Linked DNA regions of Homo sapiens: region 2 is linked to region 1. Evidence: fine-mapped QTL for protein levels in blood plasma. A gene starts in region 1. The other region holds a variant in brackets. All regions are shown on one strand. Distances are from middle to middle.

Region 1 (2,500 bases):
TCTGGCCGCGGATGGCCTCGATGCGCTTCCGCTTCACCAGCTCCATGTCGATAGTCTTGCAGGTGGATAGTCCCGCGGCCGGCCGGCCAGGCGTCAGCACCAGTAGCCACAGCAGCGGTAGCAGCAGCGGCAGCAGCCGCAGCCCGGAGGGCGGCATGGGGGAGGCGGCGCCCCCCGGCACTGCCGAGAGCGCGAACAGGGCTGGTGTGGTGGGGAGGCCCCGCCCCTGCAGGGGCTGGGGGTCTCCCGGCAAAAGGTAGGAGGGCCTCGAGGGAAAGCTGAGGTCCTCAGGGAGAAGGGCGCAGTGGTGGAGGGGAGGCTTGGACCGGGGGTGTCTCAGTATCCCACGGAAATAACCTAGATGGGCGCGATCTGGTACCAGAAGGTGGGTGGTCTTGAATAGGGGATCTGTGGCAGGTCGGAGAGAGATCCGTCTCCTGGAGGAGAAAGGGTCTAGGATGCGCGGGGGCTCAGGAGACAGGCCGGGGATGAAGGCGGCGTGCAGGGGGTGCGCCCGAGGTCTGGGGAAAAGTCTTTGCGGGAGGCCGGGTCGGCGACTCCCGAGGGCTGGTCCGGAATGGGGGCGCCTGAGGGACGCCGTGTAGGGGGCAGGGAGGGAGCAAGCGTCCCCGGCGGCAAAGGGAGGCGGTCTGGGGTCCCCAAGTCCTGCCTCCTCGCGGGGCAGCGTCGCGCCAAGAGGTCCCCGCGCCTCCGGCTCCCAGCGGCAACGGAAAAGTCTCAAAAGTTTTTTTCCTCTTCTCCCGACCAGCTCGTCCCTCCTCCCGCTCCTCCTCCCCCTCCTCCCCGCAGTGGCGGGGGCGGCGGCGGCTCGTCTCAGACTCTGGGGCCTCAGGCTGCTCCTCGGCGACTCCTTCCTCCGCTCCGGGCCGAGGCCGGCCCCGCGGGCGGCTCAGAGCCGGGGGGGTGCCCCGGACGGGGCGTCCCCCCTGCCCCCGGCCGGGGCCCTCGCTGTCTGGCTGCTCCGCGGAGGGAGGTGGGAGGGAGATGGCCCAGGGCGCGAAGGGCGGCGGCGGCGGGGACCGGCTGGGTCGGCAGGGGGTTTTGAAGCCGCCCCCGGCCCCACCCAGGAAGCGCACGGGGCGGGAGCGGGGGCGGCCCCCAGGGGGAGGGCATGGGGGGGCTGGGCCACCGTCCTCATCTCGCGTGGGCGGGCTCCGAGGGGGGTCCCTTCAGCCCTGGGGGAAAGGGGGCGGGCACCCCGGCTCCGCCCCGCAAACAGGGTGCTGCCTCCTGGCGGCCAAGCGCCACCAAAGCGGGTGATCCAGATGCGCTGTGGCTTTGCGGGCGGTGTGGGTCACCAGAGAAAGAGGACCAGGCGGAGAAGGCTTAATCCGGGGGATGAGACACAGGGGAGCCGACCAGAGGAGGGGGACCCAGAACGGAAGGAGAGTCAGGCTGGGAAACAAGGTAGGAGAAGAGGGTCTGTCAACATGGGGGCCTCCGGAGGGTGTCAGTGGGAGGAGGGGGCAACAGGACACCTGAAGGATGGAAGGGTCAGGAGGCAGACACCTGTAAGAATTGCTCTCCTTTACTGAGCACCTCCCATGTGGCTAAGCAGCCTCCTGTCACTCAACACCCTGCGACCCCATACATTTACTGTCCCCAATTTACAGATAGGGAAACTGGGCCCAGAGGGACCCCGAGGTCCTAGAAAGGACAGAAGCGGTGCCATGCCTTAGCTGGGGTCAGCTCTGACAGTCTCTAGAGTCTGTGCTCTTGACCACTGTGCCATCCTCCCCCATCACTGGGTGTCCGGGGTGTGGATGGTGGTGACGTTGGAGGCAGAGTCCCTCAGCACTCCACGCCGTAGCGGTCGAAGTTGCGGAGCAGCAGGCCGATCTCCAGGTGCACGGTGCCACCAGCAGCTGTGTGCAGGCGATAGCGGTCGGCCCCACTGTAGATGGTGTCCCCATGCAGCAGCTGCGGCCCACCACCCACGAAAGCCCGTGCCAACTGTTCTCGCCAACTGCCCAGGGGCCGCCACGTGGGGCAGGCCAGCTGGTGGGTGCCCGGGCTACTGGGCACATGGCAAAATCCATAGCCTGCAAGCTGGCAGCGGCCAAAGCTGTCCTGGGACCACACCTGGAAATGGAGCCGGGGCCAGCCTGCAGGAAAGGAGAGAGAGGGGAAAGGAGGGATGGGTGGGGACCAGACTCCTGCTGATTCCCCACTCCCTGATACTCACTGGAGACCCCAGGCCCAGTCTTTTCCTCTCTGGGTTTCTGTCCCAGAGTTTCCAACCCAGCCTCCTTTCTAGGCTCCCACCGTCTTATCTATCCCCACACAGCAGCCAAAGTGATCTTTCCAAATCCATGTTACTCCCCTGCTAAGGATCCTTCCATAGCTCCCCAGTGCCCTCAGTATAAAGTCCAACCTCTTCAACATTCAAGGCCCTTCTAATCAGACCTCTGCTGAATTTCCTCTCTGTGTTATCCTCCTCCATGACCCCATGTCAGGGCAGCCCATTGCTCCTCCAGTC
Region 2 (3,009 bases), 35 kb before region 1:
CTGGGCGATAAAGCCAGATCTTGTCTCAAAAAAAAAAAAAAAAAACACAGATGTGGAAATGAGGATGAAAACAGAAGGAAGATGGGCCGGGCACAGTCACTCAAGCCGGTGATCCCAGCACTTTGGGAGGGCGAGGTGGGGGTGGACCTGAGGTCAGGAGTTCCAGAGCAGCCTGGCCAACATGGTGAAACCCCATCTCTACTAAAAATACAAAAAAATTAGCCACATGTGGTGGCAGGCAACTGTAATCTCAGTTACTTGGGAGGCTGAGGGAGGAGAATTACATGAATCTGGGAGGTGGAGGTTGCCAAAAAAAAAAAAAAAAGAAGAAAGATGAATGAGGTGGGGGTAGGTGACAGAAACTGAAAAAAGCAGGAAAGATAGAAAGATGGAGATAAAGGAAGAGATGGAGAGAGATCCAGAGCCGGGGTGGGTGATAATCCAAGTTGGGGAGAAGGAGGGATAGAAACTGAATCTGCTAGAGGCTGGGCACAGTGGCTCAGACCTGTAATCCCAGCACTTTGGGAGGCCGAGGCAGGCAAATCACTTGAGATAAGGAGTTCAAGACCAGCCTGGCCAACATGGTGAAACCCCGGCTCTACTAAAAATACAAAAAAAATTAGCCAGGCACTGTGGCAGGTGCCTATAATCCCAGCTACTCAGGAGGCTGAGGCAGGAGAATCACTTGAACCCGGGAGGCGGAGGTTGCAGTTAGAGTTAATCGAGATCACACCACTACACTCCAGCCTGGGCAACAGAGCGAGACTCCATCTCAAAAAACTGAGTCTGCTAGAGGATGCCACAAACAGCTGGGGGTAAGATTGCTGGCAGGAGTGGGGAAGCTGAGCAGGACAGGGACAGTCACAGCCTATGGTGCTGCAGAGGCCAGGAGTCCGAGCAGTTTCTTTGCCCTGGACTCTGAAGACACGGCTAGGACCAGTGGAGGGGAGGGACCAGGGCAGGTTTAACTGTTATTTGAGGGACAGAGTCACTCGTGCAGAAACAGGCAGCCAGGGGTGATGCAGGGAACTCAAGTTTTGGGGTAGTGGGGAAGCCAGGCCCACCTGAGGGGTTGCTGCATAGAGGAGCACTCGAGAGAGGATGGATCTAGGGCCTTCCACCACCAGGAGGCTTTCCCAGGGATACACGGGCAGATGCCCCACCTGACCTGATCCCTTGCACACACATGCCAAATCCACGTGGATGTACACACATACACGCCCCACAGTGAAGGCGTGTCCACTGCCAGCCAGACTAGGGCCCCACAAACAGGCACACAACCTAGAGACACACAACTTCTGCTGCATTGTCCTGCATGCTGACACCCAGACAGACAGGTGTCTGTGGGCATATGCTGGGCCTCACAGGACATGTGTGTGTACATAGGCCATGTACACGTCCATGGGCAGGAGCTTGTGCATCGTGCCTGGACACAGTTGTACACGAGCTCCAGACCGTCAGAGCCTCAGAGGCCAGGATGTAGCCAGGTCTGCCCATGCACACACATGCTTGGATGCATGAATACATGAATACACAGGAAGATAGAGGCCGGGCCACATACACACACTCAGGTGCCTGCACGAGTAATCACATGCACATGAC[C/T]TCAGGTGCCTGCATGAGTGCTTGCGCACACAGCTTCAGGCACCTGCATGAGTATTCACGTGCATGCCTCAGGCGCCTGCATTATTCACACGCACGCCTCAGGCGCCTGCATGAGTACTCACGCGCACCTCAGGTGCCTGCATGTTTTCCTGTGTTTTTGAATGTGTGCATACACACACTTGGACTGTGTATGCACATCATCCCACAAGCATGATCACACACATACCCACATGGACACTATCTGCTCAGTCGCTCACCCCATGCCCACCCTGTCTCTCCTCTGTGCAGGGGGCGAGTACTTCAGTGATGAGCAGATGCGGTTCCGGGCCCCCCTGCTATATGAGCAGTACATCGGGCAGTATCTCACCCAGGAGGAGCTCAGTGCCCGCACCCCAACCCACCAGCCCCCCAAGCCCGGGTCCCCCGGGAGACCTGCTTGCCCGCTCTCCAACTTGCTGCTCCAGTCCTACGAGGAGCGGGAGCTACAGCAGCGTCTGCTCCAACAGCAGGAGGAGGAGGAGGCCTGCTTGGAGGAAGAGGAAGAGGAGGAGGACAGTGACGAGGAAGGTGAGGGCCAGTAGCAGGAAGACCCCAGATTCCAGACACCCCAGCCCTAGGCCTGTCTGTCTCCACTTCATGGCAGCAGGCTGGGCCCCCAACCTGCAAAAGCCGACATTGCGTCCCTCCCCTGCCCAGCCTGACTCTCTGTGTATGCCCTTCCAACCGCTGCAGCATCCCCATCCCCCACTCTGAGGCACCAAATGAACCCTCGCCTCCAGGTCTGGACAGGCTGTTCCCTCCGCCAGGAATGCCTCTCCTCCCACCCTTCAGGTCTCAGATCCTGACCCGAGGATACAGTCTCCAGAGCACTATATGGTCATGTGTTTTATGCGTGTCCCTGGAGGGCAGGGACCAGGGCCATCTCTGTCACTAGTGTGTTCCCAGAGCCACCCAGCGCAAGGCTGGGCACAGGAGCAGCAGCTCTCTGTGGACTCTGTGCTCAGTGCCTGCCCGAGTGCACCCGCATTCACACCCCCTCTCCTCTCCCTCTGCAGACCAGAGGTCAGGCAAGGACTCGGAGGCCTGGGTTCCCGACTCGGAGGAGAGGCTGATCCTGCGAGAGGAGTTCACCAGCCGCATGCACCAGCGCTTCCTAGATGGCAAGGACGGGGACTTTGACTACAGGTGCTCCTGTGCCTCCACCTCCCCATCCCCCAGCCCAGCATCCCACGGCCTTTGGTCACATGCAGAGCCCTTAACAAGCTGTGGGGGTCTCCCTTTGTGGAGCTACAAGGCCCCAAAACAGTTCCAGGATGTGGGGTTGAACAGCCAAAGGAAGAGGCTGGGTGACCTCGGACTAGCCTTGTCCATCTCAGACCCTCAGTCTCCTCACCTCTAAGGCAGGGG

Direction of the effects. Alleles are on the strand shown, and positions count from the first base shown. The strength of an association depends on the size of the effect and on how common the allele is.
For the plasma level of the protein whose gene starts at base 1,035 in region 1, C is the low allele of the variant in region 2 and T is the other (strong association).

Evidence for each region. PIP is the chance, under the fine-mapping model, that this variant and not a neighbour inherited with it causes the effect. The UK Biobank Pharma Proteomics Project read protein levels with antibody pairs (Olink). The fine-mapping took linkage between variants from a reference panel, not from the people measured, so its PIPs are less certain.
Region 2: its variant is fine-mapped to the plasma level of the TGFB1 protein (UK Biobank, PIP above 0.99).

The regions. Positions count from the first base shown.
Region 1 is chr19:41,352,888-41,355,387 of GRCh38, forward strand. TGFB1 (transforming growth factor beta 1) reads right to left here and starts at 1,035. Exons shown (of 7, transcript NM_000660.7): 1 at 1-1,035. The coding sequence starts at 157. It overlaps B9D2 (B9 domain containing 2), which reads right to left. Exons shown (of 4, transcript NM_030578.4): 4 at 1,530-2,126. The coding sequence ends at 1,813. RefSeq lists silencers at 1-47, 208-287, 588-657, 808-1,337 and enhancers at 1,338-1,487, 1,411-1,912.
Region 2 is chr19:41,317,684-41,320,692 of GRCh38, forward strand. It overlaps CCDC97 (coiled-coil domain containing 97), which reads left to right. Exons shown (of 5, transcript NM_052848.3): 3 at 1,891-2,169; 4 at 2,658-2,787. Among named protein-coding and RNA genes, the nearest start is that of CCDC97, 9.0 kb to the left of the region's middle. RefSeq lists an enhancer at 2,249-2,986. The variant C/T (reference allele first, on the strand shown) is at 1,603.